2 separate regions of the Homo sapiens genome follow, and region 2 is linked to region 1. Evidence: fine-mapped expression QTL. Tissue or cell type: hippocampus. Region 1 holds a variant in brackets; the other region holds the start of a gene. All regions are shown on one strand. Distances are from middle to middle.

Evidence for each region. PIP is the estimated chance that this variant, and not a neighbour inherited with it, causes the effect.
Region 2: ADAT1 starts here. The variant in region 1 is fine-mapped to the expression of ADAT1 in hippocampus (GTEx, PIP 0.92).

The regions. Positions count from the first base shown.
Region 1 is chr16:75,924,255-75,926,941 of GRCh38, reverse strand. No RefSeq gene overlaps it. Among named protein-coding and RNA genes, the nearest start is that of CPHXL, 200 kb to the right of the region's middle. The variant CTA/A (reference allele first, on the strand shown) is at 982.
Region 2 is chr16:75,622,024-75,624,710 of GRCh38, reverse strand. ADAT1 (adenosine deaminase tRNA specific 1) reads left to right here and starts at 1,430. Exons shown (of 10, transcript NM_001324445.2): 1 at 1,430-2,308. RefSeq lists enhancers at 1,117-1,636, 1,516-1,755, 1,637-2,156, 2,157-2,676, 2,677-2,687.

The sequences.
Region 1 (2,687 bases):
TGGTAGATTATTCTGAAACAATGGGAAAAAATTGCTCTATCATTGTGTTTTGTGAATCTAGATTTCTATATTTTGTTTGTTTGTTTGTTAGTTTTCTTTTTTTGAGATGGAGTTTTGCTCTTGTTGTCCAGGCTGGAGGGCAATGGTGTGATCTCAGCACATCGCAACCTCTGCCTCCTGGGTTCAAGCGATTCTCCTGCCTCAGCCTCCTGAGTAGCTGGGATTACAGGCATGCGCCACCATGCCCAGCTTATATTTTGGTTTTTTTAATTTTATTAACGTAGTAGATAAGCAATATAGATAACTTTGGAAGATAATAAGCAGAGAGATAGGAATGTCAATTCCCTGTAAGATATGAGCCTAATGAACCAGTTACCTTAGAAAAGGTAACTCATAATAACCAATTTTTATTTATTATAAATATCTAATAGCTCAATTATTTCTTCTCATGCTTACTAAAAATATTTCCTAGAGTTTTTGAAGTTTCTAGGGCAAAAATCTCCTATAGCATATGCCCTACAATTTAGCACACATAAAGGAATGTGGGGATTTTTAATTCAGATGTGAGTTTTAATTTCATGAGCTACTTAACAGTTTCCAAATGGAATTTCTCTACAGCCAGAATCAAAGACAAAGATTTTCTTCGCCATTATTTCTAGTTAACTTGAAAATAATTTGAATGAAAGAGAGAAGGGCTTGTCTAAACACTAATGCCTGGAACCACTTGAAATATTTTCACCAGCTTTCCAAGTGTTCCCTGGTTCACCTGCAGACAGCCCAAGGTCATTCCCTGCGCAGAACTGTCACGGCCTGAACTGCTCTCTTCCTTTTTATGTGCTGAGCATCTTCTCACTGGAGATTTTCTACCATTTCTCCTTCATCATTCTTCTTTCTTAAAATTTATTGCAGTTTTGATTTCCTGCCATGGTAATGGGTTATCTTTTATGACTGTGCAGATGGGCGCTTTCATTTGGGGAAACT[CTA/A]CACCATTCCTGTCGGCCTCTGGATAGCAGCTTAGAAGCTCTATTCATCGAGTTTCTTAGCTGTGTCACTAGTTTAGAACACCTTGTCATCTATTTTACAGGGTCTGAAGATATTTTCCATTCGTAACCAGTACAGGTTTGGAATGTTACTGAGTTAAACAGCTCAGCAAGTTTTACAACTGGGCACAGAAGAGGATGGCATCTATAATTATAGACTATAATTATAAGGTTCTTGAAAAGGTGGGATGAGACAGCTTCAGTACACAATGTTGTCATATTCTGGCATCAGAACATATTTGGTGCTTGACCTGGATGGAGTTGGAGACCGTTATTCTAAGTGAAGTAACTCAGAAATGGAAAACCAAACATCATATGCTCTCATTTATAAGTGGGAGCTAAGCTATGAGGAAGCAAAGGCATAAGAATGATACAATGAACTTTGAACTTGGAGAGGAAAGGTGGGAAGGGGGTTGAGGGATAAAAGACTACACATTGGGTACAGTGTACACTGCTCGGGTGACAGGTGCATGGAAATCTCAGAAATCACCACAAAGGAACTCATCCCCAAAACTACTGATATAAAATAAAATTTGGTGCCGGAAGTTATTCTCTAGTGACTCTAGTCACAGTGGTTCTCAACTACGAGTGATTTTTTTTCCATGGTAATGGTAAGTGGTAAATATAAATGGTAAATAGCTCCAAAGATATTTGGCCATGTCTTGAGACATTTTGGGTGGCCACTGGATGGGACACAGTGCTGGCATCTAGTGGGTAAAGACCAGGGAGGCTGCAAAACATCCTCCTATGCACAAACAAACCCTCCATGACGGAGAATTATCTAGTCTAAAATGTCAATAGTTCCAAGGTTGAGAAACCTCAAAGATCAGCTATATTTCCATACCAGTATTTTATTACAATATTATAAATAGTACTCTTCATAGCACTTTTCAATATCTGATATTGTGTTCAGCTGTTCTTGCATTTCTATAAAGAAATACCTGAGACTGGATCATTTATAAGAAAAGAGGTTTCATTGGCTCAGAGGTCTGCAGGCTGTGCAGGAAGCATAGTGGCATCTGCTTCTGGGGAGGCCTCAGGAAGCTTTTACTCATGGTGGAAGGCAAATGGGAAATAGGTACTTCACATGGCAAAAGCAGGAGCAAGAGCGAGAACTCTGTGAACACAGAGCGAGATCTCACTCATCACCAAGGGGATGGCCCAAGCCATGCATGAGGGATCTGTCCCCATGATCAAAACACCTCCCACCAAGCCCCACCTTCAACATTGGAGATTACAATTCAACACTAGATTTGGGCAGGGACAAATATCCAAACTATGTAAGAGATTTTTCTTGTTTATTTTTCTTTGTATTTTTCCCCACTTTGCCTGAATTAGTCACTTCCATTTTTTCATCACACTGAACTGTGTGCTCAATAAGAATTGTTTTAACGTTATTAGTTCCACTACTGTTGTTTTAAATAGGAAATAGGAATATTTCTATTTTAAATAGGAAAGAAACTGAAGTCAAAAGTGGGCCAAAAGGTTACAGTACAACATGGTGGCAAGTCATACTGAGATCGTGGTGTCTTAATATAAAAGTCAGTGTCTCATTCTTGCTGGTGTTTTGAATCACTTTAGGAAGGGCAATTTGGAACACTGGTTTGTTTTTAAACATCCAAGTGAACAAGCCATCTTTTCTTCTGT
Region 2 (2,687 bases), 300 kb after region 1:
CATTCAGTTACTGGGTGACAAAGGCCCCTGAAGTATCCAGGCAGCTATATTACTTATTCCCGGCAATCCAAAGGTTTTTAGACCTGTTCTGCCCACTACACTGTAGTAGTACTGTACTACAGTAGCCAGTAGCCACATGTGACTATCCAGCATCTGAAATGTGGCTGATCCAAATTGGGATGTATTCTAAGTGTAACACACACCAGATTTCTTAAACTTCGCATTAAAAACAGAACAGAACATAAGTATTTTTTAAAATATTGAGACTCGGCAGCCAGGTGCGGTGGCTCACGCCTGTAATCCAGCACTTTGGGAGGCCGAGGCGGGCAGATCACGAGGTCAGGAGATCGAGACCATCCTGGCTAACATGGTGAAACCCCGTATCTACTAAAAATACAAAAATTAGCCTGACGTGGTGGCAGGCACCTGTAGTCCCAGCTACTCGCGAGGCTGAGGCAGGAGAATGGCGTGAACCTGGGAGGCGGAGCTTGCAGTGAGCAGAGATTGCGCCACTGCACTCCAGCCTGGGTGACAGAGCGAGACTCCGTCTCAAAAAAAAAAAAAAAAAAAAAAAAAATATATATATATATATATATGAGACAGACAGACCGACCCCGGGCATCGTGACTCACGCCTGTAATCCCAGCACTCTGGGAGGTTGAGGCGGGCGGATCACTTGAGGTCAGGAGTTCGAGACCAGCCTGGTAACATGGCGAAACCCCGTCTCTACTAAAAATAACAAAAATGAGCCGGGTGTGATGGCGGGCGCCTGTAATCCCAGCTACTTGGGAGGCTGAGGCAGGAGAATCGCTTGAAGCCAGGAGACGGAGGTTGCAGTGCGCCGAAATTGCGCCGCTTCCAGCCTGGGCGACAAAGCGAGACTCCATCTCAAAAAATTTTTTGATTATATGTTGAAATAATACTATTTGGGATGTATGGGTTAAATAAAATATATATGATTGTTTCTATTTTGACTTTTAATGAGGCTACTGGAAATTTTTAAATTACGTATATGGTTCGAATTATATATCTATTGGACAGTGATGTTACAGATAGAAATACAGCATAGTCAGGAGAATCGCTTGAACCGGGAGGCGAAGGTTGCAGTGAGCCGAGATCGCGCCTCTACACTCCAGCCTGAGCAACAGAGCAAGACTCCGTCTCAAAAAAAAAAAAGAAAAAGAAAAAAATTCAGCCGAGTGCTGCAAGATACGTCATTCTAGTTGAAGGAATATCTAAGCCAACAAGCGGCTCCCATCATCCGGTTTCACGCCTCTCTAAGACGCAGCCAGGGCTGCGGGACTTGAAGCGCGGGAATCTCGGCCCTGGCACCGACTCCCCGGAAAAACTACAGGGCCCGGCATGCACTGCGCGCCTCTGGGAGCGGGAGCCGAAAGGAACCGGCGCTTTGTGACGTCACGTCCGCCTTACCGGCGGATTAAGCTCGCTTTCTTCTAGGCGCGTTTCCTGAAGGTGGGAGGGGAGCGTCCGCGAGGCGCTGGGGCGACGGGGCAGGTTTATCCGGGCTAACTTTGCCGAGTCTGTTTTTGAGGGAAGAGGTTGTGAGGATCGTATCTTCCGGGACGCGTTTCACGTGGGAAGGCGCTCCACGCCTGGAACTGTCAGCAGCCGGCGCCTGAAGAGCTCCTGGCGCGGGGCCTCTGGCCTGGCAGCCGCAGGACCCAATGGATCAGGCGCTCACGCTGTTCTCACTGCATGGCTTCAGTGCCTTGCCTGGCACCTCCTATCCTGTAACTGGCCGACTCGGGGTCCCACCCAGGCTTCTCCAGCGGCCGGGAAGGGGCTCTGCTTCCGGAAGTGTTTAGGAAGGGAGCCAGCGTAAACCAGAGTCCCTTCCTCCAAGCATCGCTGAAGCCTTTTCTCCCCTGGCAGCCGACTTCCTTTTCTTTGGAAAGGACGTCAGTTTTTTTAGCTTGTTGAAACTGTTCAGAGATGCGGTCTTGTGGGCAAATAAATGCCTGTTTAGCTGAGCTGTTATTTTCAGCTAAGAAGTTCTTCAAGTTTTCAAGATCTAGGAGGGGGTGTAGGCTCGAATTATAATGGACCCAGTGTAGCAAAACATTTATTCATTTAAACAATTGTGCATGCTCATTCAGACGCACTACCTGAGTGAGATGATGCCGTTCTGGGCTGCTTCATCTTAAAGAGAGTCACTGTTTCTTCTGGCAACTTCTACCTGCCTTGCCTATCGAGGTTTGTGAATTGCACCTCTGGTTTAATTTCAGGTCGATGGCCAGGTGGTCTTCATAAACTATACTGCCTTGTGATGCCTCCCTAGAAATGAGAGGTGAGTCCCTTCCAAACGAGGATTCTAGGATCTCATGCTTTCTTTTCTTGACAAGGCTTGCCCTGGCCCTCTGACTTTCAAGTCACAGGGTCTCACTTCCTGCAGATTTTTGTTTTAAATCACTGTGGTCTGATTTACCAGTAGCATTCACTACAGTAGCGAGCCTGCACGTTGCGCTGCAGGGGATTCATAACAATACCATCTTTCAAAAGCTGCATGCACTGGAGCTCAGGAAAGCCTTTTTTGTTTTTTTGAGAGGGAGTCTCGCTCTGTCACCCAGCCTGGAGTGCAGTGGCACAATCTCGGCTCATTGCGACCTCCGCCTCCCGGGTTCAAGCGATTCTCCTGCCTCAGCCTCCCGAGTAGCTGGGACTACAGG